7 separate regions of the Homo sapiens genome follow, and regions 2, 3, 4, 5, 6 and 7 are each reported to be linked to region 1. The links are microRNA targets in miRTarBase. Many come from high-throughput screens and were not tested one by one. Region 1 holds a microRNA gene; each other region holds the end of a gene's coding sequence. Distances are from middle to middle.
Evidence for each region. The annotated mature microRNA hsa-miR-3187-3p reads UUGGCCAUGGGGCUGCGCGG and lies in region 1 at 2,425-2,444, opposite strand. An mRNA with a match to its seed (bases 2 to 7 or 8) in the 3' UTR can be bound and repressed. Matches are read on the target gene's strand: a 7mer-m8 pairs with bases 2 to 8, a 7mer-A1 pairs with bases 2 to 7 and ends in A, and an 8mer does both.

Region 2: miRTarBase lists SGSM1 as a target of hsa-miR-3187-3p. Seed matches in the 3' UTR shown: 7mer-A1 at 2,630-2,636.
Region 3: miRTarBase lists JPT1 as a target of hsa-miR-3187-3p. The part of its 3' UTR that is shown has no 7-base or 8-base seed match.
Region 4: the mRNA of ABCA6 is a reported target of hsa-miR-3187-3p. The part of its 3' UTR that is shown has no 7-base or 8-base seed match.
Region 5: miRTarBase lists U2AF2 as a target of hsa-miR-3187-3p. Seed matches in the 3' UTR shown: 8mer at 3,001-3,008.
Region 6: miRTarBase lists SYT2 as a target of hsa-miR-3187-3p. Seed matches in the 3' UTR shown: 7mer-A1 at 2,839-2,845.
Region 7: the mRNA of NPHP3 is a reported target of hsa-miR-3187-3p. Seed matches in the 3' UTR shown: 7mer-A1 at 1,073-1,079.

What each region holds. Positions count from the first base shown.
Region 1 is chr19:812,071-816,070 of GRCh38, reverse strand. MIR3187 (microRNA 3187) reads right to left here and starts at 2,487; the gene lies at 2,418-2,487. It overlaps PTBP1 (polypyrimidine tract binding protein 1), which reads right to left. Exons shown (of 15, transcript NM_002819.5): 15 at 3,759-4,000. It overlaps PLPPR3 (phospholipid phosphatase related 3), which reads left to right. Exons shown (of 8, transcript NM_001270366.2): 3 at 220-405; 4 at 744-885; 5 at 990-1,185; 6 at 1,322-1,379; 7 at 1,464-1,637; 8 at 2,176-3,583. The coding sequence ends at 3,501.
Region 2 is chr22:24,923,725-24,927,800 of GRCh38, reverse strand. SGSM1 (small G protein signaling modulator 1) reads right to left here. Exons shown (of 25, transcript NM_001098497.3): 25 at 223-3,615. The coding sequence ends at 3,527. Among named protein-coding and RNA genes, the nearest start is that of LHFPL7, 21 kb to the left of the region's middle.
Region 3 is chr17:75,132,603-75,136,678 of GRCh38, reverse strand. JPT1 (Jupiter microtubule associated homolog 1) reads left to right here. Exons shown (of 5, transcript NM_016185.4): 5 at 429-1,431. The coding sequence ends at 577. LOC107985034 (a long non-coding RNA gene) reads right to left here and starts at 429. Exons shown (of 2, transcript XR_007065907.1): 1 at 1-429.
Region 4 is chr17:69,075,391-69,079,466 of GRCh38, forward strand. ABCA6 (ATP binding cassette subfamily A member 6) reads right to left here. Exons shown (of 39, transcript NM_080284.3): 38 at 3,820-3,875; 39 at 3,312-3,684. The coding sequence ends at 3,583. It also overlaps a transcript of ABCA9 not described here. Among named protein-coding and RNA genes, the nearest start is that of ABCA9, 17 kb to the left of the region's middle.
Region 5 is chr19:55,673,391-55,677,466 of GRCh38, reverse strand. It overlaps U2AF2 (U2 small nuclear RNA auxiliary factor 2), which reads right to left. Exons shown (of 12, transcript NM_007279.3): 12 at 2,751-3,533. The coding sequence ends at 3,399. EPN1 (epsin 1) reads right to left here and starts at 2,241. Exons shown (of 11, transcript NM_001130072.2): 1 at 2,032-2,241. RefSeq lists silencers at 1,960-2,289, 2,460-2,679.
Region 6 is chr1:202,593,504-202,597,579 of GRCh38, forward strand. SYT2 (synaptotagmin 2) reads right to left here. Exons shown (of 9, transcript NM_177402.5): 9 at 1-3,460. The coding sequence ends at 3,254. Among named protein-coding and RNA genes, the nearest start is that of SYT2, 110 kb to the right of the region's middle.
Region 7 is chr3:132,678,474-132,682,549 of GRCh38, reverse strand. NPHP3 (nephrocystin 3) reads left to right here. Exons shown (of 27, transcript NM_153240.5): 27 at 460-1,941. The coding sequence ends at 640. It overlaps UBA5 (ubiquitin like modifier activating enzyme 5), which reads right to left. Exons shown (of 12, transcript NM_024818.6): 12 at 2,756-4,076. NPHP3-ACAD11 (NPHP3-ACAD11 readthrough (NMD candidate)) reads left to right here. Exons shown (of 45, transcript NR_037804.1): 26 at 460-636. Among named protein-coding and RNA genes, the nearest start is that of UBA5, 20 kb to the right of the region's middle.

The sequences.
Region 1 (4,000 bases):
ATGGAGGATGAGTGAGTGGGTGTGTGATGTGTAGATGGTCGAGTTACAGATGGAGCATCTGTGGATGGATGAATAACTCATGGGGGAAAGAGTGGCTGGGAGCGGGTTGGATCTGTGGATAGGTGAGTGAGACGGTGGATGGCCCTGAATTCATGGAGGGCTGGACAGACGCCTCCGCGAGGGAGAGCAGGGTGAACCTGGCCCACCTTGTCCCCACAGCTGCCCATAGTGGCTTCTTCCATCGTATCCTTGTACTTCCTGGAGCTGACCGACCTCTTCAAGCCGGCCAAGGTGGGCTTCCAGTGCTATGACCGCACTCTCTCCATGCCCTACGTGGAGACCAACGAGGAGCTCATCCCGCTGCTGATGCTGCTCAGCTTGGCCTTCGCGGCCCCTGCCGCCTCGGTGAGCACCTGCACCGGGGCCTGTGCCAGCCTGTGGGCACCACGGCTGGGAGCCCACCCCCGCCACCTCGGTGAACATCCACACTGGGGCCTGTCGGTGAACATCCACACCGGGGCCTGTGCCAGCCTGTGGGCACCGCAGCCACTGCCACCTCGGTGAACATCCACACCGGGGCCTGTGCCAGCCTGTGGGCACCACGGCTGGGAGCCCACCCCCGCCACCTCGGTGAACATCCACACCGGGGCCTGTGCCAGCCTGTGGGCACTGCAGATGGGAGCCCGCCTGAGCGCCCCCTCCCTGTGGGCACCGAGGCCTGAGCGCCCCCTCCCTGTTGGCAGATCATGGTGGCCGAGGGCATGTTGTACTGTCTGCAGTCCCGGCTGTGGGGCCGTGCCGGGGGGCCCGCCGGGGCGGAGGGCAGCATCAACGCCGGCGGCTGCAACTTCAACTCCTTCCTGCGGCGTACGGTGCGGTTTGTGGGTGAGTTGCGGGACGCGCCCCGACCCTGAGCTACCTCCACATGCAGGGGGTGGGGCTGTCCCGGGTCCCCAGCTCCCCGCCTGGCCGAGCCTTCCGCCCTGCAGGTGTCCACGTGTTCGGCCTGTGTGCCACAGCCCTGGTGACGGACGTGATCCAGCTGGCCACGGGTTACCACACTCCCTTCTTCCTCACCGTCTGCAAGCCCAACTACACTCTCCTGGGCACGTCCTGCGAGGTCAACCCCTACATCACGCAGGACATCTGCTCCGGCCACGACATCCACGCCATCCTGTCTGCACGGTGAGCCGGACCCCCAACTCCCCTGACTGGGAGCCTTCTTCCGCCCCGGTGAACATGCGGGGAAACAGAGACACAGAGAGGCCACTGGAGCTGGGGTCCCCAGGTGGGCGGGGCTCACGCTGGACGCCTCTTACAGGAAGACCTTCCCGTCCCAGCACGCCACGCTGTCAGCCTTCGCCGCGGTCTATGTGTCGGTGAGTCCGGCCCCTCACTGCCCTTCCCAGGCCCTCTTGCTGACCCGTGGGGAGCCCTCCCTGACCCCAACCCCCATGCCCCAGATGTACTTCAACTCGGTCATCTCGGACACCACCAAGCTGCTGAAGCCCATCCTGGTCTTCGCCTTTGCCATCGCCGCGGGCGTATGCGGGCTCACGCAGATCACGCAGTACCGCAGCCACCCTGTGGACGTGTATGCCGGCTTCCTCATCGGGGCGGGCATCGCTGCCTACCTGGTGAGTGGCAGGTTCTGATGGGGGTCGGCATGGGTTCCCAGGGGATCTGAGGGGGGAGGCATGAGTGCCCACAGGGCCTGAGTGGGGAGGCTGGCCCAGGGGTCTGAGGTGGGAGGCAGGCTCAGGGGGTCTGACAGGGGAGGCTGGTAGCCTGAGGGGTGAGGCATGGTTCCCAGGGGTTCTGGCGGGGGGCTGGCCCAGAGGGTCTGAGGGGGGAGGCATGGGTGCCCAGGGGCTCTAGGGGGGAGGCACGGGTGCCCAGGGTGTCTGAGGGGATAGACGTGGGTCCCGAAGGGGTCTTAGGGGGAAGGCATGGGTGCTGAAGTGTCTCGCCCTTGGAATGCTGGAGTCAGAATCCCGTGGGCTCAGACCTGCCCGATGTGCTGGGTCAGCAACCTTGGGGTGGGAACCGGTCCCACTGGACAAGAGCTTGCCAGCCCCCACCCCCGGTCCAGAGCCCCCCGCGGCAAGTCCAACGATCACAGGGGAGGAGCCCTCTGAGCCCCAGGCCTCACCCCCAGACCCCTCTCCCCGACAGGCCTGCCACGCGGTGGGCAACTTCCAGGCCCCACCTGCAGAGAAGCCCGCGGCCCCGGCCCCCGCCAAGGACGCGCTGCGGGCCCTGACGCAGCGGGGCCACGACTCGGTTTATCAGCAGAATAAGTCGGTGAGCACCGACGAGCTGGGGCCCCCAGGGCGGCTGGAGGGCGCGCCCCGGCCCGTGGCCCGCGAGAAGACCTCGCTGGGCAGCCTGAAGCGCGCCAGCGTGGACGTGGACCTGCTGGCCCCGCGCAGCCCCATGGCCAAGGAGAACATGGTGACCTTCAGCCACACGCTGCCCAGGGCCAGCGCGCCCTCGCTGGACGACCCCGCGCGCCGCCACATGACCATCCACGTGCCGCTGGACGCCTCGCGCTCCAAGCAGCTCATCAGCGAGTGGAAGCAGAAGAGCCTGGAGGGCCGCGGCCTGGGGCTGCCCGACGACGCCAGCCCCGGGCACCTGCGCGCGCCCGCCGAACCCATGGCGGAGGAGGAGGAAGAGGAGGAGGACGAAGAGGAAGAGGAGGAGGAGGAAGAGGAGGAGGACGAGGGCCCGGCCCCGCCCTCGCTCTACCCCACCGTGCAGGCGCGGCCGGGGCTGGGGCCTCGGGTCATCCTCCCACCGCGCGCGGGGCCGCCGCCGCTGGTGCACATCCCGGAGGAGGGCGCGCAGACGGGGGCCGGCCTGTCCCCCAAAAGCGGCGCCGGGGTGCGCGCCAAGTGGCTCATGATGGCCGAGAAGAGCGGGGCGGCAGTGGCCAACCCTCCGCGGCTGCTGCAGGTCATCGCCATGTCCAAGGCTCCGGGCGCGCCGGGCCCCAAGGCGGCCGAGACGGCGTCGTCGTCCAGCGCCAGCTCCGACTCCTCGCAGTACCGGTCGCCGTCGGACCGCGACTCCGCCAGCATCGTGACCATCGACGCGCACGCGCCGCACCACCCCGTGGTGCACCTGTCGGCCGGCGGCGCGCCCTGGGAGTGGAAGGCGGCGGGCGGCGGGGCCAAGGCGGAGGCCGACGGCGGCTACGAGCTGGGGGACCTGGCGCGCGGCTTCCGCGGCGGGGCCAAGCCCCCGGGCGTGTCCCCCGGCTCGTCGGTCAGCGACGTGGACCAGGAGGAGCCGCGGTTCGGGGCCGTGGCCACCGTCAACCTGGCCACGGGCGAGGGGCTGCCCCCGCTGGGCGCGGCCGATGGGGCGCTGGGCCCGGGCAGCCGGGAGTCCACGCTGCGGCGCCACGCGGGCGGCCTGGGGCTGGCGGAGCGCGAGGCGGAGGCGGAGGCCGAGGGCTACTTCCGCAAGATGCAGGCGCGCCGCTTCCCCGACTAGCGCGGCGGGGCCGGGGGCGGGCGGGGGGCGGGCCGAGGGCGCGGGCGGCCGCGCGGATGCTCAATAAAGCGGCAGAAACCGAGGTCCGGCTCTTGGTCATTCGCTCTGGCCCGCACGCCCCACGCAGGGACCCCCACTCTCAGGGCCGGGCCCACCCCGCCCGTGGCCCCACCTGGCGCTTCGGCGGACACCCGGGCGGGAGTCGGGGCCGCCCGCGGCACAGAAAGAGGAAGCCAGCAACGAAGGCGGAACGGAGCGAGGATACAGAAGATTTATTCGAAGTCCAGGTACAGACTGGCCAACCTGCCTCTACAGCGTCCACAGCGAACACAGGGCTAGACAAGGGAGGAGTTTCTCAAACGGTTTTAATCGGTTCTCTCCGCGTCACAAGCCATCGGGTAAGGCAACGGAATGTGCGTGGGGTCCCCTGTGGCTCCGCGGTCACAATACTGAGCCTGGAATTGCTGTTAGCAAAATATACATTTGTGTCACCATAAAA
Region 2 (4,076 bases), not on the chromosome of region 1:
TTTTGAGACAGGATTTTGCATTGTCACCCAGGCTGAGGCACAGTGGCATGACCATGTCTCACTGCAGCCTCTATCTCCTGGGCTCAAGCAATCCTCCCACTTCAGCCTCCTGAGTAGCTGGGACCACAGACACACGCTACCACATCCAGCTAATTTTAATTTTTTTTTTGTTTGTTTGTTTGTTTTTGTTGGAGAGACGGAGTCTCATTATGTTGCCCAGGCTGATCTTGAACTCTTGGCCTCAAGTGATCCTCCTGCTTTGGCCTCCCAAAGTGCTGGGATTACAGGGGTAAGCCACTGTGCCTGGCCCATGCTCCTTTTCAGTGTCACTTTCCAAAGATTCTCATCAGGAAGTACAGTCTATTTCCCTACCCTATGAAGCTGGGCTGAGTCATGTGACTTACTCTGACCAACAGAATGTGGCAGAAATGACTTTATGCCAGAGAAGCTGAGACCAAGAGACAGTGTGTGTTTCTGCTTACCTTCTGGGATCTGCTATCATAGCCATGTAAACAAGCCTAAGCTAGCCTGCTGGAGGATGCAAGATACGGAATCCAGTTTCCCCCACTGCCCTAGTCAACAGCCAGACAACCATCAGAAGCAGAGTTGCCTATCTGGACATCAGCTGACCACAGACACATGAAGAAGTCTGAGAACAGAAGAACCTCCTAGCTGAACCTAGCCTGGGATGCTGACCCACAGAATTATGAGGTAAATACATGGCTGTTTTAAACCACTACTTTTTGGGTCATTTGTAATGCAGCATTACTTGTGGTAAGAGCCAGCTAATACAAGAAGTCAGAAGTGATTCACCTTTTCTGGGAAAAGGCCAGGCAGCTATTACAAAAATCTGACCCCATATAGGGTCACTGGGGTGTGAGTGGGAGGACACAGTCCTCAGAAGCAAGCATTTTTTTCTTTCAAATTAAAAAAAAAAAGACAAAAAAAAACAGATTCACATATTTCTCTGTTTATATATATTTTCTCTATATATAGACACAACTCTTCAGCAAACATTTACAAGATATGTGGGCCACACTGAAAAAAAGAGTGCACTCCGCGGACAGAACGAGTCCCACGCATCCAATTCCAGGACACAGAAACACACACAACATACAGAGATCTGAATAGGCACAGTAAACCAAATAAATATGACTTATTCCAAATCACAACCACAGATGCTCTCTGGAACATCACAAGAGAAGGCAGAGAAGAGATTTTGTGCTGTACTTTGAGACTAGTCTGTTAAAAAAATAAATAGGAATCAGAAGGTCTAGGACCTGGGTCTCACTAAAATAACATCCTCTGTAAAGAACAGCTGAACGGCAAAATAGTTTTCTCCGGAGGGGCCTTTTGCACATTTCTTCCTGTCTTGGGAAGCTAGGGGACGTAGGGGAGGGAGACGTAAGTCTAATGGCAGCCAGAACGTTGCCGTCTCCCGTTTCTGCTTTGGTGGGGGTAGGGTAGGAGCTGGGAGCCGGGAAGCTACTGTAGCCTCGAGTTTCCCACAGAGCTCTCTTCAGGAAGTAAGGGCTGGCTAGACCTCTATCCACCCTGCACCAGAGGCTGGGCAGAGGTTGGAGGTTCAGGTGCAGTTGAAGTTGCTATACCAAGGGAAAGAAGCCTTTACAAGCACACAAGGCAAGGATGCATCCCCGTCCTGGTGTGCTCAGGGTGGGAGGACTAATACACCCCTCCGCAAATGCTTCAATACGCTGCTTTACCTATCCTCTCCCTCTCCAAAATCCCAGCTGCTATTCTCTGACCACCCTAGAGGCGGCAGGTCTCCCGGGAAGAGCCTTTCTCTCTGCTGCTTGCTGGGTTTCCCCCATTCCGGGTGCATTCTCAGAACAGAAGAGCGGGAAAGACTGCTCTATTGAAAGGACAGGTAGGCAGAGTAAACTAGTTCACTTCGGGTCTGTTTGTGGATTGGTGATACTCTGTGTGAAGACCTGGAGAGGATTGTTCCCAGACCTAGCACGGCCCTGGACCCAGTTCATCAGCAGATGTTTCCCAAGGAAAACAGACATCACCCTCTACCCTGGCTGACCTCTGCCTTCCTTTTCCTCCTTTGTCCTGAGTGAGTAACTGCACTTAGAGAAAAGCTGCACCCCACCACCATTAAGTGGCTTTCACCAAACACACACCTTTCCAAGACCCAATACTTGGAAGGAGAGGCGGTTTTCCCTTGCAAGATGGCAGCAGGATACAGACTCTGCCCTGCCTGGGGGACTCTGAGCAGGACCCCAAAGAGCTCTGACCGTCTCATGCCTACACTTTTTGGGTCCACCGCCTATGTGGGGAGATACTTTTCTTGAAAAGAAGAAAACAAGTATCTTCTGGCATCAGACAGAGGAGAAAAAAGGAGAAAATACAACAGATGGAATCCCAGACTCCAAGAGAGATGTGTGAGGGACTCTTGTGTGCCTTTTCTTTTTTTTTTTGAGATGGAGTCTTGAACTGTCGCCCGGGCTGGAGTGCAGTGGCGTGATCTCAACTCACTGCAACCTCCACCTCCCAGGTTCAAGTGATTCTCCTGCCTCAGCCTCCCAAGTAGCTGGGATTACAGGCACCCGCCACCACACCCAGCTAATTTTTGTATTTTTAGTAGAGATGGGGTTTCACCATGTTGGCCAGGCTGGTCTCAAAACTCCTGACCTTGTGATCCGCCCACCTTAGCCTCCCAAAGTGCTGGGATTACAGGTGTGAGCCACCATGCCCGGCCTCCTGTATGCCTTTTCTAAGTGAGGGGAGGCGTCAGGACCAGGGTGGCTTAGCGTCAAAAGAATGGGGGAGGAAGTACATTTGTAGTCCCTTCTCCAAGCCAGTGGTTCTCAAATGGGGGCAATTTTGCCCTGCAGGGAACATTTCGCAATGTCTAGAGACATTTTTGGGGGCTGTCACAACCAGGGGTATGGTTGGGGGATGGCACTACTGGCATCTGGTGAGGCCCGGGATGCTGCTCAGCATCCTACAATGCAGGGGACAGTCCCCTCAAAAAGAATCACCTGGCCCCAAATGTCAGTAATGTCGAGGTGGAGGGTCAATCTCTAAGTCAATCTTCAGCCATGTCCAGAACATCGCCAAAGGCCCCTTGCAGAGGAGCATAGAGGTAGCCCCACACACCTCTTCTACACCAATTTCCAAAAAGAAGTTTCCTCCCCAGGTCTCATCTTACAAGACAGTTTGGAGGGATAGGGAAAGAAGAAGAGGAGACCATTCCGGGCACCAGCAAACAAAGATGGCTCCTCCTCCACCAACAACCTCCACCTCCTGCAAGGGAGGAACGCCAGACTTGGGCAATCTTTGGTCAAACAGGAAAATGTAAGGCTGAATTGAAGGGGTACTCCCTCCACCCCATCTGCCCAGAAGTAAAAGTCAGGGTAGTTTCTTTGCGCACTGAACTCCACGCTTGTGAACAGACACCAGGACCCCGCTCCCGGGGTGCCCATCCAGCCAGGAGGAAAAGTAAGCAGAGGAGCGGGGCAGGGGCAGCTTGGCTGAGGCTGCCGGGGTGAGGTGCCCCTCACTTGTTCTCAATCAGAGTCTGCACCTTGTACACGAGGTCCCGCGCCAGCTTCAGGACTTGCTTGGTGTTGTGTCGCTCAGCCATTTCTGAAAGAGCAGAAAGAAAAATCTCATGAGCCTCCTTCTGTGTCCAGTCTTAGGGTACAATTCCAGCCCCTGGAGGCTTCTCTGGGGGCATCTCCATCACAGATTGACTCAGGAAGCAGAGGCCCTGGAGAAGGCCTCTACCTCTGGACCTTAGTTTCCTCATCTGTAAAATGGGGATTGGAACAGCAGCCACCTCACCAAGTTACTGTGCGGATTGAATGGGATAATGCTGGTTCACAGGATGTGCCATAAAAAGGTGAGGTCGGCCGGGCATGGTGGCTCATGGCTGTAATCCCAGCACCTTGGGAGGCCGAGGCAGGTGGATCACCTGAGGTCGGGAGTTTGAGACCAGCCTGACTAACATGGAGAAACCCTGTCTCTACTAAAAATACAAAACTAGTCGGGTGTGGTGGCGCATGCCTGTAATCCCAGCTACTCAGGAGGCTGAGGCAGAAGAATCG
Region 3 (4,076 bases), not on the chromosome of region 1:
CTGTACTAAAAATACAAGAATTAGCCGGGCATGGCGGCAGGCGCCTGTAATCCCAGCTACTAGAGAGGCTGAGGCAGGAGAATTGCTTGAACCTGGGAAGTGGAGGTTGCAGTGAGCCAAGACTGCACCATTGCACTCCAGCCTGGGCAACAGCGAGACTCCGTCAAAAAACAAAACAAAACAAAAAAAAACTTCATGTCCTTATATATTTGTGTAATTTAGAAAAGAACATAAACAACAAATATGGGAAAAGATGAACAATGGTTAATTCTGTGGAGTGGGAGCATGGTGGGTGATTATTTTGTTTATGCTTTTAGGTATGTTTCCAACCATCAAACCAAAAAAAAAAGAAAAAGAGAAACAGATCCTTGATCTTAACAGGAAATGGCTGTCATTATGAGTATTATTTCTATTCCCTGTTTTCATAGAAAATGTGGACACAGACTTGCCAGGCAGCCTGGGGCAGAGTGAAGAGAAGCCCGTGCCTGCTGCGCCTGTGCCCAGCCCGGTGGCCCCGGCCCCAGTGCCATCCAGAAGAAATCCCCCTGGCGGCAAGTCCAGCCTCGTCTTGGGTTAGCTCTGACTGTCCTGAACGCTGTCGTTCTGTCTGTTTCCTCCATGCTTGTGAACTGCACAACTTGAGCCTGACTGTACATCTCTTGGATTTGTTTCATTAAAAAGAAGCACTTTATGTACTGCTGTCTTTTTTTTTTTTCTTTTGAAGAACAGGTTTCTCTCTGTCCTTGACTCTTGGGTCTGTGGGCCATGGCATGAGTGTTTTCTAGTAGTAGATTGGAGGGAAAGCTTTGTGACACTTAGTACTGTGTTTTTAAGAAGAAATAATTTGGTTCCAGATGTGTTAGAGGATCTTTTGTACTGAGGTTTTTAACACTTTACTTGGGTTTACCAAGCCTCAACTGGACAGACCATAAACAGTCCACAGGCACCGTTCCTGCCAGGCCCCAACCCACAGGGAGTCTCTCCGCAGAGCCTTCTTGGTGTTGCCCTAACTTGCCAGTGGCCTTTGCTCAGAGCCTCCTCCTGTGACATGTGAACAATGAAGAGGCCTGCGCCTCCTGCCTTGCCGCCTGCAAAGCAAAGAAACTGCCTTTTATTTTTTAACCTTAAAAAGTAGCCAGATAGTAACAAGACTGGCTGGCTGATGAGCAAAGCCTTTGCTCTCACGCAGAGGAAGGCTTGGATGTACAATGAAACTGCCTGGAACTAAAAGCAGTGAAGCAAGGGAGGCAATCACACTGAAGCGGGTCTTCCTCCAGGAACGGGGTCCCACAGGCGTGTTGTTTTAAATAACCTGATGCTGTGTGCATGATGCTGGTGCTTGACCATGAAAGGAAAGTCTCATCCTTAAAATGTGTTGTACTTCACAATCCTGGACTGTTGCTTCAAGTAAACAATATCCACATTTTGAAACACTGTGTACTGTGTCTTCTTTTTGAGATGGTTTCAGTGTTCTCCCTGGTTAGATGCTTTTCTCTTTGTCACTATAAATCCTGCCTACTGATTGGAGGAGTCATTTGAAGTTAAATAGCCAGATGTGCCTGTAATTAGCTACTTGGGAAGCCAAGGCAAGAGGATGCTTGAGCCCAGGAGTTTGAGACTATCCTGGGCAACATAGCGAGACCTCCTTAAAAAACAAAATCTTAAAACAGATGAAGACCCAGAGAGGAGTGGGTTTCTTTCTGAAGAAGGCTCTAAAGATGAGCAGGTTAGACTCTTCTACCTCCCCTTTGTTCTGGGCAGTAACATTTTAAAGTGTTCTCCAAGACTGGGCAACATGGTGAAACCTCGTCTCTACCAAAAATAGCCAGGTGTGATGGCACACGCCTGTAGTCGGGAGGCTGAGGCAGGAGGATTGCTTCACCCTGTGAGATCAAGGCTGCAGTGAGCCATGATCGCACCACTGTACTCCAGCCTGGGTGACAGCAAGACCCTGTCTCAAAAAAAGTTCTCCAACTTTAAATATGCGGGGATTTCTCCCCACCAGCAAGCAAGCAAGCAAGCAATTCTGCAGTGGATACCAGCTAGGTGTCCTCCAATTTTTTTTTTTTTTTAAGACAGTGTCTCAGTCTGTCGCCCAGGCTGAAGTGCAGTGGCACAATCTGCTCACTGCAACCTCTGCCTTCTGGGTTCCAGCGATTCTCCTGCCTCACCCTCCCGAGTAGCTGGGACTACAGGCATGTGCCACCACACCCAGCTAATTTTTGTATTTTTAGTAGAGACAGGGTTTATGCCATGTTGCCCAGGCTGGTGTCGAACTCCTGACCTCAAGTAATCTGCCCACCTCGACTTCCCAAAGTGCTGGGATTATAGGCATGAGCCACCTCACCTGGCCCTCCAATTCAATTCTGACAATCAGTTACCTGGAGATAGCTTTGATTCCACAAGTTGAGGGCTCAGCCCCCAAGACTGCTTCCCCTTGAGATAACTCGCAAGTCTGGGCCTCCAAAATGTCTGCGTATCTATGAGTCATATGCATGTTGACTTGAGCCCCTCTTAGACTGGTTTGTCAGGCTTTTTTTTTTTCTGAGATGGAGTCTGGCTCTGTCACCCAGGCTGGACTGCAGTGGCATGATCTTGGCTCACTGCAACGTCTGTCTCCCGGGTTCAAGCAATTCTCCTGCCTTGGCCTCCTGAGTAGCTGGGATTTGTAGGCATGTCCCACCATGCCCGGCTAGTTTTTGTATTTTTAGTAGAGATGGGGTTTCACCATGTTGGTCAGGCTGGTCTCGAACTCCTGACTTTGTGATCCACCTGCCTCGGCCTCCCAAAATGCTGGGATTACAGGCGTGAGCCACTGCACCCGGCCCTGTCAGGTTTTTTTGTGTGTGTGATGCTTCTATTACATGTTTTGTTTGTTTGTTTGTTTGAGACGGAGTCTCGCTGTGGCCCAGGCTGGAGTGCAGTGGCGTGGTCTTGGCTCACTGTAATCTCTGCCTCCCGGGTTCATGCCATTCTCCTACCTCAGCCTCCTGAGTAGCTGGGACTACAGTCACCCGCCACCATGCCCAGCTAATTTTTTTTTTTTTTTTGTATTTTTAGTAGAGACAGGGTTTCACCGTGTTAGCCAGGATGGTCCTGATCTCCTGACCTCATGATCCGCCCGCCTCAGCCTCCCAAAGTGCTGGGATTACAGGCGTGAGCTACCGTGCCCAGCCTCTGTTACATATATTTGGAAGCAGTGGGTTCATCAGATGGGGAACAATGGCGAGATGGGCCACTTAAATCTGTGTTTATAATTTTGGCTCTCCCCTCCCCCAACAGGGACTCCCTCTGTCACCCAGGCTGGAGTGCAGTGGCAGGATGAAGGCTGTGTAGCCTCAATTTCCTGGGCTCAAGGGTTCCTCCCACCTAAGGCTCATGAGTAGCTAGGACCACAGGCATGCGCCACCATACCCAGCTTATTGATTTGTTTATTGTAGAGACAGGGTCTCCCTGTGTTGCTCAGGCTGGTCTTGAACTCCTGGGCTCAAGCTGTCTCCCACCTGGGCCTCCCAAAGTGCTGGGATTACCAGCCTGAGCCACGGCGCCTGGCTTTATAGTTTGTAGGCAAATAGATTTGAGTGGAGTCAGGAAGTTTCATGACATCCACAAAAAGAAGAGTCAACAAAATGTATCACAGTTCAGCATGTTCTTTTTTTTTTTTTTTTTTTTTGAGAAGGAGTTTTGTTCTTGCTGCCCAGGCTGGAGGGCAATGGCATGATCTCGGCTCACCGCAACCTCTGCCTCCTGGATTCAAGAGATTCTCCTGCCTCAGCCTCCCGGGTAGCTGGGATTACAAGCATGTGCCACCACGCTAATTTTGTATTTTTAGTAGCGACAGGATTTCTCCATGTTGGTCAGGCTGGTCTTGAACTCCCGACCTCAGATGATCCGCCCGCCACGGCCTCCCAAAGTGCTGGGATTATAGGCGTGAGCCACCGCACCTGGCCCTGTTCAGCATTTTCTAGACGGGAGTAGGTAAGCGATGTCAGTTCCACATAAAGTCCTGAGGACAGTCCTGATTACCTGTGCTTGATCAAAATCATCTTTCCGGGGGAAACCACACTTGAAGCTCC
Region 4 (4,076 bases), not on the chromosome of region 1:
TCTTTGATTCATCTTGAGTTAAATTTTGTATATGGTGAAAGGTGGGGGTCCACTTTGATTATTCTGCATATTGCTAGCTAACTATCCTAGGACCATTTATTAAATACGGAGTCCTTTCCCGATTGCTTATTTTGTCTGTTTGTCAAAGAACAGATGGCTATTGGTGTGTGGCTTTATTTCTGTGTTCTCTATTCTGTTCCATTGGTCTATATGCCTTTTTTGTACAAGTATCATGCTGTTTTGGTTACTGTAGCCTTATAGTATAGTTTGAAGTCAAGTAATGTGATGCCTCCAGCTTTGTTCTTTTTGCTTATGGTTGTTTCGGCCATTCAGGCTTTTTAATATAAATTTTAAAATATTTTTTCTAATTCCATGAAAAATGACATTAATAGTTTGGTAGAAATAGTGTCAAATCTGTAGATTGCTTTGGGGAGTATGGCCATTTTAACTATATTATTTCAATCCATAAGCATGTCATATTTTTCTGTGTCATCTATGATTTCTTTCAGCAGTGTTTTGTAATTCTTCTTACAGAGATCTTTCACCTCCTTGGTTAGATAAGTTAGATGTATTCCTAGGAATTTATTTTTTGTGTGGCCATCTATTTGGATACTTTCTATTTCCTTTTCTTGCATCATTGCTCTGGCAAGAAATTCAGTACTATGTTGAATAGGAGTGGTGAAAGTGAGCATCCTTGTCTTGTTGCAGTTTTCAAGGGGAATGGTTCCATCTTTTGCCCATTCAGTATAATGTTGGCTATGGGTTTGTCATTGATGTTTCCTATTATTTTTAGGTAAGTTCCTTCAATGCCTATTTTGTTGAGGGTTTTTATCATGAAGGGATGTTGGATTTAATCATAGGCTTTTCCCACATCTAGTGATATACTCATATGGTTTTATTTTTAATTCTCTTTATGTGGTAAATCACATTTATTGATTTGTGTATGTTGAACCAACCTTGTATCCCAGGAGTTAAGGCAAGTTGATCATGGTAAACTAAATTCTGATGTGCTGTTAAATTCAGTTTGCTTACATTTTGCTGAGGATATTTGTATCTATATTCACCAGGGATATTGTTCTGTAGTTTTCTTTGTTGTGTCTTTGCCAGGTTCTGGTATTAGGGTGATGCTGGCTTCATAAAATGAGTTACGGAGTAGTCCCTCATCTGTGAATTTTTAGAATAGTTTCAGTAAAATTGCTCAGCTCTTTTTTGTAAGTCTGATAGAATTCAGTTGTGAATCCATCTGGTCTGGGTCTTTTCTTGGTTGGTAGATTTTTCATTACTGGTTCAATTCTGGAACTTGGTATTGGTCTGCTAGGGTTTCAATTTCTTCCTGGTTGGATCTTGGGAGATTGCGTGTTTCCAGGAATTTATCCATTTCTTCTAGATTTTCTAGTTTGTGTGCATAGAGGTGTTCATAATAGTCTCAGAGGATCTTTTGTATTTCTGTGGGATCAGTTGTAATGTCGCCTTTGTCATTTCTGATTGTGCTTATTTGGATTTTCTCTCTTTTTTTTCTTTTTTAGTCTAGCTAGTTGTCTATCGATCTTGTTTATCTGTTCAAAAAACCAATTTTTGGTTTCACTTATTCTTCATGTGGATTTTTGGGCCTCAATTTTGTTAGTTCTGCACTGATTTTAGTTATTTCTTTTCTTCTGCTAGTTTTGGGATTTTGTTCTTGTTCTTCTAGTTCCACCAGGTGTTATGTTAGAGTGTTAATTTTACATCTTTCTAACTTTTCGAAGTAGGTATTTAGTGCTATAAACTTCCCTCTTACCACTGCTTTTGCTGTATTCCAGAGATTTTGGTATGTTGTATCTCTGTTTTCATTTATTTCAAAAAATTTTTTTTAATTTCTGCCTTAATTTCATCATACCCAAAAGTCATTCAGGAGAAAGTTTTTAAATTTCCATGTAATTCCATGATTTGGGGAGATCTTCTTGGTATTGCTATTTTTATTCTTCTGTGGTCTGAGAGTATGGTTGGTATGATTTCAACTTTTTAAAATGTATTGAGACTTGCTTTATGTCTGAGCATGTGGCCAATCTTGGAGTATGTTCTGTGTGCAGATGAGAAGAATGTATATTCTGTGCTGATCAGTGAAGTGTTCTATAGATGCCTGTTAGGTCCAATTGGTCAAGTGTCAAATTGAAGTCCAAAATTTCTTGTTAGTTTTCTACCTCAGTGGTCAATTTAACACTGTCAATGGGGTGTTGAAGTTTCCTACTACCATTGTTTGGCTCTCTAAGTCTTTTCATACATCTAGAAATCATTGTTTTAAGAATCTGGGTGCTCCAATGTTGGGTGCATATATATTTAGGATAGTTAACTCCTCTTGTTGAATTGAACCCCTTATTATGTACAATATGTGAACACCAAAAAATCACAGAAGGAATACTGCTTGGTCTTTGAATTTTTTTTTTTGGTGATATTCAGAATGAAATAGCTATTTTTAAGGGAAAGAATAAAGTAATATGTTAAACTGACAGGTATTTTAAAAATTAAATAATATAAAAGATATGTGGAAAATATATAGATACACCTACATGCACATACACTTATATAAGGGAGAAATGATTTTAAAAAATATCAAATCCCATAAAACTATTCAAAGATGACAAGGAAAATTAGCACCCCCTGAAAACAATAAGTTAATGTTGTTAAGAGTATGCAAAATTTAAAAAATCTGAACAAATACTACTGTGACTCCCTTTATTTTCAAAAGGTATAATGGAACTACTTTTCAACATGAGTGCTTGTCTACTTGTGTGTCCAAGGACCTCCTAATACTTGTGAGGTTTTTTGGTTTTGTTTTTGTTGTTTTTTTTTTTTTTGACAGAGTCTCACTCTGTCACCCAGGCTGGAGTGCACTAGCACATGGCTCACTGCAACCTCTGCCTCCCGGGTTCAAGCAATTCTCCTCCCTCAGCCTCCCGAATAGCTAGGACTACAGGCAAATGCCAACGCCCGGCTAATTTTTGTATTTTTATTAGAGATGGAGTTTCACCATATTGGCCAGGCTAGTCTCGAACTCCTGACCTTGTGATCCACCTGCCTCGGCCTCCCAAAGTGCTGGGATTACAGGCGTGAGCCACTGCACCTGGCCCCTTACTTTTGAGTTTTAAAGCAATTTCTGGAACACTTTCAGAAGACTCTTGAGTTGTAGTTGGTTATAAAAGAAAACCTGTATACCTGTTGTATCATGAACTGGTGTGAAGTAGTCATGCAACTCTTGGCTACTGAATATACCCTTCACATATTTCAGCAAGAGAATGTTTTGTAAAAGGTAAAAAAGTCATATTTTTAAAAAATTCTAAGTTTATATAGTTTTATTTCCACAATACCCAGTGCCTGACTCTTTGGGTGACTTTACTAATATTTTGTATTGCCTTTATCACAGGTTTGCTATCACCCCTATGTTTGAGAGGAAGAATAATTTTAAAATTTATGTATTTGTTAACTAAATTTACAAAATATACCTGATGTTAATTTTAAATGATCTTTAAAATTAAACATACTATTAATTATTACATAAAACATGAGTTTATAGGAGATCAACAAAAAATTACTAGGTTTGAGGTTTTAAGGTTCATCTGAATGAGGGAGGAGTTTCCATCTCATTGTTGTATCAATTTCTTCATCAAAATTTCCTACTTCCTGTTCTTTAGAAAGCTCTAAGAATACCTAATTAGGAGACAAAGAAGAAGGAAAGAAGGAAGAGAGATTATCAAGTTGTTGGTCTTCCAAATGAACAGGAAAATGCATGTTGCTTTCATGTGAAATTTACCAGATGATACAAAGTCAAACCACTTGACTTACCTTCTCCAGTGTGCACTGAGAAAGGCTGTATTCTTCCAGGTTAAAGTTATGCTTCACTGGAGGAAAAAAAAGACTAGTATTAATAGTAGATGCTTACAATTTATTACCAAGAATTTTTTCAAAATCATAAAGAATAAAAATGTAAATCATTAATATAAATAAAGCTGAATAAGCCAATGCTTGATGTAAGGATGAAATAATGAAAGCCATACAGAATTAATATAAATATATACTATGTTAATATTGATGTTATTTTC
Region 5 (4,076 bases), 55 Mb from region 1:
TCATACTTTTAAATTAACCTAAATTAAATTAACCCATCCCGAGACTGGTGACGAGAAACAAGAGAGTCAAGCAAATGATGATGACACCAGCAGACACTCGCACTGCTCTTATCCCATGCCAGGCACTGTTTTAAGTGCTTTACATGTATTAACTCAGTTAATCCTTGAAACAACCCCATGATTCATAGCCACCTCACAGGGTGGAAACTGAGACACAGAGGTTCAGCCCCTTGCCCAGGGACACACACCTTACTCCTGGAGCAGCCTGGTTCCAGAGCCAGCTCTGATCACCCATCTATGCGGCTCCAAGAAGCCACAGAGGGAGATTTTCAAAGCCCCGCCATGATGTAAGCCCAGGGGAGATAGGGATGACGGAGAGAGGCTGGCCTCTGCTTCCACCTCAGGCCAGAAAGCCAGGCACCTGAAGACAGATGTAGCTAGTTAAAAAGTAACTCTCTGGAGTCCCAAAACAGCCCCAGCCTAATACATTAAGATGAAGAGATGATGTAACAAATGCAGAGAAGGGGACTGAGAAGAAATAGAAGACAGTTCTGACAGAAAGAGACACATAGAAACCTGGGCAGAGGGAGCTAGGCAGAGACACAATGAGAAAAACACAGGCAGCAGCAGATACAAGAACATGGGAAGACAGGGAGGCAGGAGGCCAAGGAAGAAAGAGGCCCAGAAACAAAAAGAGACCTGGCGCTGAGAAATAAGAGATAAGAAAAATGGAATCTAATGGCAAAGAATATAAAATGTGGGTTCAAATCCTGGCCACATCAGCTACCTGCAGCGCACACCTCCTTGAGACACAGTTTGCTCAACTCTGAAATGAAAGAATTCCTACCTGGTAGGCCTGTTGATTAAATAAGATGGGTACATGCAGTGCTTGGCTCTGTGCCCCACAGATAGTAGGCGCTCAATAACACTGGCTGCTATTATTATCAGAGAAAAAACAGAGAACATTTCCAAAAGGGTGGCGGCAGAAAAGGCACTATCTTAATACTCTGTACTTATTTGGCGTGCATTAGAAAAAATTACCCAACTAGCACATCAAAGCTGAGATTTCTCAGATACTGCTTAGAATGAGACTGTATTTCAAATTAAATTGATTCAAAGAGAATTCTTACATTAAAAAGAATACAAAGGATATGGCAAAGTTCTCCAAGGAGTACTCCAATAACCGACCGATATCTAACACTTACTGTGTAAAAATCTCTAAGCACTGTAATAATAAAAACCAGAGCTCCCAGTAATTACACACTTGCTATGTGTCAGATACCGTCAGGCACTTTACAAGCATCACCTCAACTTACATGCACAAGGACCCTATGATGTAGGAACTACGAATGCCTACGAACTATGGATTTCCTACGACTAGGAAACTGAGGTTTTGACACAGAGACTATCACCTGGCAATTACACAGCTTAGCAGGCAGCCGGGCTTCTGAATCCAAGGCTGGGGCTCTTCACCATCACACCAGAGACTCAGAAAACTGGGGAAAAGGGGCAGATTCTAGATCAAGTTAACAGACTCCTGGAAAGAAACTTCAGGATTGGAGGTGATAGGTATGGGGGCAAAACTCAGATGCGAAGACGGGGCGGGGGTAAGATTTGCACCATAGGCAGAAAAGCCCGCAGGGAAGGGCTAGAGACACCTAGGGAAAAGAAGACTCGGAAACTCAACGAGACACGAACAAATCCTGACAGACACAGACACGACAGACAGAGGAGAGAGAGACCCGGGACAGACACACAAACACACTCCTATCTCCAAACCCTTTTCTAAGTTCACTGAAACAGGCACAGGCAGAGGCCCACAGGAAACAGACGCTGACAGACACACAGACACGAGAGAGACAGACACAGACAACCGACACGGGGGCAGTCAAGGCCGACACAGGAGCAGAGACACAAAGGCCGCCAGAGACACCCAGAACTGGCCAGACGCGAGCCCGCGCGCGCCGCGGCCCAGGCCCGAACACCCGGAGCAGGCGGGCCAGCGTCCCCCGCGCTCCGCCCCGCGCTCACCTCGGCCCCCTCACGCCGGGCTCTGGGGGGTCATGGCGGTCAGCCCCCTGCCCCGCTCGGCCTCGGTGTCGCGGGACGTGCGCCGGGCCACGGGCGCACGCACGAACGCAAGGAGGGCCGCACGCCGACGGCTCCGCCGCCCCGCCGCCCAGAAGGGGCGCGGAGAGCCGGGCGGGGGAGGGGAGCCGCCGAGGAGACGGGAAGCAACAGAAGGAGGCGACGGACCGGAAGCGGAAATTGCCGCGCTCCCCGCCCTCCCGTGCCGCACCCCGCCCTGGCAGGAGTCGCTTCCGCAGCCAAGCCAACCTGGAAGGCATCACTTCCGGCGCGCTGGGCCCCGTTGCTAGGCGCCTCTACGTCACTTCCGCCCGCTGCAGCGGGGGATCCGCGCGGTGCTCACGGAACGCCGAGAGTCAGCTCCAGCTCGCTTGGCGGCAACCGCGGAGCTCCTGGCACACCCACGCCACGCCCGCCCCGGCCCGCTCGGCCACCATCCCTCCTGTCGGCGGGGTGGGAGAGCACTCGGGAACCTCACGTCCCCCGGGGCTGTGCCTGTGCCGACCCCGAGAAGGGCACCGCGCAAGCAGGGAAGGCCTCGAGGCTGCCGGCGCCGGCAGCAGGGGCGTCCCAGCCAGGGGCCCGCAGTTTGCCAAGGGAACCCCCACCCGAGCCCAGAACCGAGGAAGAGGGTCGGACATACTGGACACACAGCCGCTCCATAAAGTAAAATACAACAAAATGTTTAATGAGCAAATTCGTCTTAGCAAATATGAAACTGCCACAGAGAGTAGGAGAGGGGCAGGGGCCACGGGGCTGGGCGCAGGTCGGGGGAGACTAAAGAGGAAAAATCAACTACGTAAGAAACCCAGGAGGGGACCAGAGAGGACCAGAGGCCGAAGGAACAGAGCTGTGGTCCTGGTAAGGGAGAGGGCAGGGCACTGAGGGCCGGACAACAAAATTCAAAATAGTTTGGCCATAAAATATAAACACGCTATGTTCCTACCGTGGGGAAGGGGAGAAGAAAGGGGTCTATGGGAGAAGGAGAGGCTGTTTTGGGAGGGGCTGGGGTCCTACCCCGCCCTGCTGTGCACCCTGTCCCCATCCCAACCCCTTCCCTCTGTGTCTGTGTGGGTGCGTGTTGTCTGTGTGGGCTGTGTGCGCACTTCCCCAGTCCCCTCCCTGCCCTAACCCCCCAACCCCCCAACCCCCGCCCCCCACCCTTAATTGCTGCCATTCCAGTTGCTGCCGGCTGTCGTGTGTCTGCGGCTGTCACTCCTCTGCCCATCGTCTTCAGAGGGGGATAAGGGGGGGGCGGGAGTGGGGAGAAGCCCCCAGCCAGCCCTGCCCCCACCCTCCCCCAGCCGCCTCTACCAGAAGTCCCGGCGGTGATAAGAGTCGGGGTCACAGTATTTTGTGACAACCACTCTGTTGGCGAACTTGCGGCCCGTCAGGCCCTGCATGGCTTTCTGGCAGTCAAACACAGAGGTGAACTCCACAAAGATCTGTGGGGAAAGGAGAGGCAGGTTTGTGAACAAGGCTCACGCCCAACAGCCAGTCAGCGTCCACCCAACCCCAGCACTGAAGGCAGGAAGGGACAGGGAGGAGGGGGCTTCGCCACAGGTGTCAGAAAGGGACCCTTAGTAAGCAGGTTTGGTGGAGTTCACCCAAATATTCTCCAGGATCAAAAAACAAGAGCATAAACACACCATAGGCATGGAGAGGGAGAAAGAATAGAGACATGCCAGAAACTCAGCAGAGCCATAGAGCGCAGGCGGGAGGCCTAGACGAGCTCACCGCGGGGGAGGGGTCCCTCGTGCTGAGTGTCTACTCCACACGAGCCACCATGGTGGGCGCTCCCAGAACCACCCCAACAGCCATGTTCTCCCAACAATAAGTGAACTAAGGGAAGCTCAGAAATTAGGATTCAAACCCAGGTTGAATAAAATTTAAAAACTTGAACCTTGATCTATTCGAGCTTCTAACCTTGCTTAAACCAATTTACAGGAAAATGGAGGGAGGGAAGGATACAATGAGCCTACACGAAC
Region 6 (4,076 bases), not on the chromosome of region 1:
TCAGGATCTGAGACTGTGGCCTAATCCCTGCTATCTCATCCTCTACTGAGGGACTCCAGGAAAGTCACTTCTCATTCATGCCAAGCACCTGCCTACTGTCTGAGATTGCCCCAGCATTCCTTACCCAGCCTTCCCCAGGCCTCAGCTTCCACTTCCAAAGCCCAAAAATCTGCCTGTAGCTCTGGCAGAGTTAGCATCCCTTCTGGAACAATTATTCAGGGAGGAAGAAGAAAACGAACTTTCAGACTTTACCCCAGTTTCTGGATGGGATTAGGCTTGTTTTCATGGTCTCAGCTTCTCTAAAAATCACCTCTATACTACTTTCCTTTCTCTGGAACAGACTTTGAGATGAAAACTCACAGCCCCAGAGGCGTCCAGAACCCCTTACTAGCCAGACACCCTAACTCTATCCTGCTTAGTGCCTACACCCCAGTACCCTGACATCCCCAGAAATAAACCTGCCCAGCAGTGAGTGTTTGGCATGATGCCCTGTGGTTTAAGCTACGTCAGCCCTCAGGTATGGAAAACACACAAGCAGAAGCATGTTCCCACCAAGCCCATGGACCAAGACAGATGCCATCCACTACGTGGCATATCAGGACCAGCTGGGACCTGAGGAAGGCACTGCTCCCCACACCCACACTGGCTCCACACTGGTGTCAACGTTCAAAATCACTCAGCAACCTGTCCCCACCCCTCAAGGCTCCTCACTAGCAGTGGGCTCAGAGTAATAAAAATCCAGCCCTGGTCACCAGGCACATAGACACCCAGACCACCAGAGGTTCCTACCATTGCCTTTCCTCCCTGTCAAGGGAATGCAAATCTTGGGCTTTGGAAGGGCTGAATGAAGTTCATGAATGGAAAAGAATCCAGGTGGTAGAAGATGAATTGGGAAAGGGCAAAGGAGTAAAGGTAGAGGGGATATTGACAAGGGGGTCTCCATGAGTGAGTCTGTGGGATATGGGTGAGAAGAGTGAGTCTGGGGAGAGACCCTGAGAAAGCACCAAAATCCCATAACTCTGGGGTTGGGAGAAGAGTCCAGTGACTTCTGATGTCCATACCAGGAAATCCCACTCTGTGGCCACCCAGATTCTGAAAACACCCTATTGTCCTACAACTCTCTACCATGACCACACCTTTGGTCCCAAGGACCGCAGTTCATAATCCTGATCAGAGTCTTACCTTCCCATCATTAAGTACACACACACACACACACACACACACCAGTAAAAACATAACTTCCCATGTACCACTAACAAGACAAAGAAGGATCTCCAAGAGACAGGCAGGCTTTCCAGTCTGTTTCTGGTGGGGGTATTCCCTCATTTCCCTCACTCCTTCATCCAAAAAACAAAGCAAAACCAAAAGCCCCTTCCCCCTTTTTAAAATAAAATAAAAAGACACTCTGCAACTTCTTCACACTGGATCCTCAAAGCCTGATTCCCTCCAACACTGTCCATCTGTCTTGGGTGTCTACAGGAAGCTGAAGTGGCCCAGATGGGGCAGGATAGAGATGCTGCCATTTGTGCTGGGAAAGAGAGATACTCAGGCTTCTGGAGAAGCCATGAGTTTTCTGTGGTGAAAAAATGGCAAGGGCCTGAGGGCTTCATGGATGGAAAAGAGAGGTCAAAGGAAGGCAGGCAAGGAGGGCTGGCCTCTGGCCACAAGGGGACCTCACTCTGTTGTCCAGGCTGAAGGATTGGAAGAAGACTCAGTGCAAACCTGACTAACATATATATGGCTTTTATATCAGTGCTGGGGACAAAAGGTGAACAGGGAATGGGATACAACTGAGCATGGGTAGAAACCCTAGAAGGTCACCTCTGCTACTCATTTGGAATGGATGCCCTTTGTTTCTTAGCATTCATAGAGAGAAGCCCCCTAATGGTAGGACGGGTCCTTCCCATAGGTCTCCCTGGGCCACTCCAGCTACCTATCAGCTCTCCAGCATGGAGGGCAGAGGGCCAAGGGAGCAAGGAGTGGGAGTCGGGGGAATTCCAGTGCTCCCCTATATCTCCTCCCAAGGGATCTCAGCCATCTGTCCCCCATCCTCTTCTTACCACCCCCTTCTTACCTGGACCTCAGGAGAACTAAGAACATTTAAACTTTCCTTTTAAAGTTCTCTGGCTCTGCACAGATAACGTGTCTTCAGACAGTGTTGCTCCACTTAAAAGAGAAACAGAAGCAAAAGCACAATGGGGAATAAATGCAAATGAACTTGGCTGCTTATATTCTGGAAAGGGAGAAAGCATCTGTGTTTCCCACTGGATGGGGTGAAGATCCAGGAGTTTAATTTTGGTCTTTCTGGTAATGGGACTTCTGTTTCTTCATAGTTTGATATTTATTGTCAATAAGAGTGAGATTTTGGGACTGAGAGTCCCTGTTAGTCTGACCCAACTAGTGAATAGCTCATATCCATGAATGTCCCAGGAACTACACTTCTGGGGAAACCATGACTGGCAGGAGGAAGTATTTGATGGCATCGTTTGGTCCTAGTTCTGAACACATCCAGTCTTCACATCTTGCTGCCTCCCAAATAGCCACCAACAGGAGTATGAAAGCCCCGATATCTGAACAGGATCCTGAGACTTTGCCATAGATGAGAGAAGATCTCCCACTTAGTGGACTTCTTCATGTCAGGGTCCCCAAAGAGCCTTCTTTTCCCACACAACTTTACTGTCCATGGCTCATTCCAGGAATGAAGAGAGATGCTCAAAGAGACACACACACACACACATTCCAGGAATGAAGAGAAATGCTCAAAGACACACACACACACACACACACACACACACACACACACATACACACACACACACACACACACACACACGATCATTGGCCACTGTGATGCCTTCCCTGTCAGGAAGCAGGATGTGCTGCCATTTTGTTGGTCCAGAAGGCTCAAAAAACAGGAACTGCTGCAAGTTTGTGCCAGTAGAGAGCCTCGCTTGGGGTGAGGCAGATGTGAAGCTTTGAAAGAGTCGAGGGAACTGTGACAGGGCATGCAGCAAGGACAGCTCCTGGGACCGTGAACAGAGCCAGGCTTCTCTTTCACCTCTTAGGGGACTCTCCTCACACAGCCATCAAAGGGAAGTTGGTCTTTAAAAAGAGAAAAACAAGGAAAAACAAGGACACAACCACCCAACAAATGAAAGAAAAAAGAAAACCTCTAAGGTTGCATAACTGAGGTATTGATAGCTCTGGATCTTGTCAGTGTCCGTGAAAGGTGTGGGGTCCCAGCCGCTGCTGTCTACTTGTTCTTGCCCAGGAGTGCATCCACCTCCTCCTCAGGCTTGAGCGAGTGCCACTGGGCGATGGGCCTCCGGGGGTTGGCCAGCATGTCGGACCAGTGCCGCAGCTCTGTGCCCGTGGCATTGCTGCCCACGAAGATCTTGCCTATGGCTTCGTTCTTGCCCAGCTTGTCATAGTCCAGCACGGTGACCACTACCTGGACTTTCTGCAAGGAAAACGAGGGAGGGAGTTGGCAGACAGAGACGTGGGATCCCATGACCAAATTTATCCTCCATCAACCTCTACTCCCAATGATTGGGAAGGTAAGGCCTCCTGGGGCTCCTTGGTTTCATCTCTGCTCCAGTGAAGACTGAATTGACATGGAGGCAGAGGCCACGCCTTTGGCAGCCTTTGTTTCTACCACTGGGCATTTATTGAGGATGTACTGTGCTCTAGACCCTGTTAAGCACTTGGAGGGGGAGAAGAGGGAAGGAAAAGTGAAAAGATGAATTTCACTTCCTCAATGAGATCAGCAGACATGTAACTGAAAACTTACAACATGAATTGATAAAGGTTATGCTAGAGAGATGGGCACAAGGTACTGTGGAAACTTAGAGGAGGTGACAGTCCTGGGGCCAATCAGAAAAGGCTTCACAGAAGAGGTGACTGGGACATGAAGTCTGAGAATTTCTCTAGGAGGAGAAAAGAAGGAAGAGGATTCCAGGAAAACAGATTTGCTTGGGTAGAGGCATAGAGACCTGAGAGTGCATTTGGCATCTGAGAAACATTAGATGTTCAGTCATTGAGGTATAGGGTGAGAAGCAGTGAGGCAGGAAATGAGG
Region 7 (4,076 bases), not on the chromosome of region 1:
CCAGAAATGAAATGAAGCCTGCATGATCTATTTTGCAGAGGAGCATATGTATGCATCATGGCAAACAGTGAAGGATGGTTTATACTACATCTGGCTCTGGGAGTAATATGGGTAATTTGCTGTCCCCAGAGTGAAGTTGCCATTAAGTATATGTTGACTTTTGCTTGCTCATTTGTATTTTTCTCAGGATGCAGAGAATACCTAACTTTGCTTAGCAATTTCACTGCCTCTATTACAACATGGTTTTAATGATATCCATATGAGACACAAAAATACTGATACTGGTAGAAAGGAGAAGAGTTTGGGTGTTGTTTTACTGGTCTGCTTGAGTGAATACACTGGAAAAAGAGGGGAAATGGGCAAATATTTACAGCTTCTTTTTCTGTATCCCATAAGGTCATTTTGAATTGGTAAGAGGTTATATTCTCATTTTAAGAGTTTTTGTTTTCTCTCTCAAAGCTATGAAGGAGGAGATTTTGAAAAAGCTGCTGAATTATACAAAAGGGCAATGGAAATAAAAGAAGCAGAAACATCACTCTTGGGTGGAAAAGCTCCTTCACGCCATTCATCAAGTGGAGACACGTTTAGCTTAAAAACAGCTCATTCTCCTAATGTTTTCCTTCAGCAAGGACAAAGGTAATAGCAGCAGTTAGAATTCTTTGCAAATGTACCTTAAGACAAAATAATTAAACATTTGGAACATTTGAATTTGAAACTTTAAAAAAATGTTGTACGAAATTTTACTACGTGTGATTTAACTGCTATTTGTATGAAGTTGTATTGGATTACATTAAGTTGGAATTGTGATTATGTCTGTTTTAGTTGTTTAAAAGAATTTTCCTATTATATGGTATCCAAGGATGTAGACACATTAGAATTATAAGAAGACATGAGGAGCAAATCATGAAGAGCGGATTGGTCTTTGTTCAACAAGAGCTGGCAGAGTAGTTAAGACAAGGAGTTCAAAAATTCCATGAATCTTGGCCAGGCATGGTGGCTCATGCCTGTAATCCCACCACTTTGGGAGGGTGATGCAGGAGGATCACTTGAGGCCAGGAGTTGGAGACCAGCCTGGCCAACATGGTGAAACCCTGTCTCTACTAAAAATACAAAAAAAAATTAGCTGGACCTGGTGGCGCATGCCTGTAATCCTAGCTACTCAGGAGGCTGAGGCATGAGAATCGCTTGAACTCAGCAAGTGGAGGTTGCTATGAGCTGAGATTGTGCCAGTTCATTCCACCCTGGGCAACAGGGTGAGACTCTGTCTCAAAAAAAAAAAAAAAAAAAAAAAGAATTCCATGATTCTTTTGAGCTCTCAAGAGCTACTTTAGCCTTGCCATTCCTCTTGCTTTTCAGCAGTAGTCTGGCCCAATTCTCTACCTCAAAGGAAAGTTTCAAGGATTAAAGGGTTAATGTTTATGAACGATTCAAATTGTCTTCAGTGAAACACATTAGTCACAAGAATCCCTGATTGCTGCACTTTAAAAAATTCTTTACCTTTTCCTTGAGCAGATTGGTCCAGTCCCTCTGCTTTCTGTTCTGTCTACATTGTGTATTATTTATTACTATATAGTATATGTATCTGCATAATGTCTGAAGTCATTAATGCAGTAACAGGTCAAGCTCTTTAGCATTCTTTGACTTTTCCCAAAATATAGATATGACATTCTCCTTTATCTTCCTTCTTAGATGGCCTAAATCTGTCTCTTCATTTACCTCAAACTCAAATTAGTATGCCATTTTCATACTGAAAATTAAATATTTTTATGGATTTTATAAATATTGCAACATTTTAGATATTGTTTTGGACCATTTGTGTATTTATATATAATAAAATCATCAATTTAATACTTGTAAGATCCTAACATGTATTGATTGTAAAAGTGAAATATGTAATAGCCACACTTCACTGTTTTAAAATAAAAGTGCAATTTCAAGTTCTTTTTTCCCCACTCTAGTTTATACAAGAGGGCTGTTTTGCATGATTTTTAAAGAAATACGTTGAACTTTTTTTAGAACTTGAAATGGACCGGGCGCGGTGTCTCATGCCTGTAATCCTAGCACTTTGAGAGGCCAAGGCGGGAGGATCATAAGGTCAGGAGATCAAGACCATCCTGGCTAACACGGTGAAACCCCATCTCTATTGAAAAATACAAAAAACTAGCTGGGCGTGGTGGCACACACCTGTAGTCCCAGCTACTTGGGAAGCTGAGGCAGGAGAATCACTCGAACCCGGGAGGCGGAGGTTGCAGTGAGCCGAGATCACACCACTGCACTCCAGCCCGAGTGAGACTCCATCTCAAAACAAAACAAAACAAAAAACAAAACCTTGAAATGTTGTCAATACTTGCTGCTCAGTAGTTTGCTCAGCTTAAGGTTTTGGTTAATGTTCTCTTAAGGCCGAGTTACTATTCACAGGGTAGTCCACAAATCATTGTCACCACCACCTGGCAGCTTATTAAAAATTCAGACTCTCAGGCCTCTCCCCAAACCTACTGAATGAATCTGTATTTTAGCTAGATCCCAAGGTGACTAATGTGCACATAAGTATGAGAAGCAGTGGTATAACTCTACGGCACTATAGTGGTAATTTAAAAAGAAATGAGGCAGTATATAATGAGCATCCTTCTTCCTCCTTTGGGAGTAGTTCAAGAGGGAAAAATAGAAGATAAACTATAACCATAACATACCTTTCTGGGTTTGGCAGCTGTGAAAGACACAAAGTAATTGAAAACACAAATATACCAGACAATGATTTTAGAATTAAGCTGTTAGAGCTTAGAATTTGATTATTTAGTGGTACAAGTCATTTAATACATAGCAAGTAATGTGTTCGGTTTATCACCTTAGAAAAACTGCTTTAGAAAATAATGAGACCAGTACTCTAGAAGAACCCTGATAAAAGGAAAAACTACCTTAAGAATATTATTTATTCTTTGTACCTCCAAAATTTGTGCCTGAATAACTGTAGTTGGAGACATGATCACTCAAAATTATGTATTCCAAAAGAATGAAATTTAAACATAATAAACTATTTTGATATTACTATTTATTTTACTACCAACCCAAACGTTCTCATGTAGAATGCATACTTAAGAAGATAAAAATAGCTGGAACATCTTTGTGTATGCATATTTGAAGTTCTCAAATAGGAATATTTTCTTCACATTAATATGCACTTTCACAATGAAAAAGGTAGCTTTCAGACAACTCAATTATAAATCTGAATTGTTAGAGTACTTATTCTAGTTATAATTTTTATTCATCAATACCTTTTTTTTTGAGACAGAGTCTCACTCTGTTTTCCAGACTGGAGTGCAGTGGCACTATCTCAGCTCACTGCAACCTCTGCCTCCCAGGTTCAAGCGATTCTCCTGCCTCAGCCTCCTAAGTAGCTGGGATTACAGTCACGCACCACCACGCCCGGCTAATTTTTGTATTTTTAGTAGAGACGGGGTTTTGCCATGTTGGTCAGGCTGGTCTCGAACTCCTGACCTCTTGACCTACCCACCTCAGCCTCCCAAAGTGCTGAGATTACAGAAAGGGAAATATGAAAAAAATGTGATGCAGGGGTCAAAGCTTCCTTTAGTAAATATTCTTGGCTGGGCGTGGTGGCTCACACCTATAATCCCAGCACTTTGGGAGGCCAAGATGGGTGGATCACCTGAGGTCAGGAGTTCAAGACCAGCCTGGCCAACATGGTGAAACCTCGCCTCTACTAAAAATACAAAAATTAGCCATGCGTGGTGGCGGGCACCTGTAATCCCAGCTACTTGGGAGGCTGAGGCAGGAGAATCGCTTGAACCTGGGAGGCGGAGGATGTGGTGAGCTGAGATCGTGCCACTGCACTCCAGCCTGGGCAACAGAGTGAGACTCTGTCTCAAAAAAATAAATAAATAAATAAATATTCTTAAGTGGCCATTACGTTTTTTGTGTTGTTCAGTGTACGTATCCAGGGAGTATTTTTATGAGAAGAAACTAGTAATACTTATTTTCTCTACAACATTTAAGTAGAACCATAACTAACTTCCCATTAACAATAAGACAGGAATTAAAGTTGAATATGTTGTTTTACT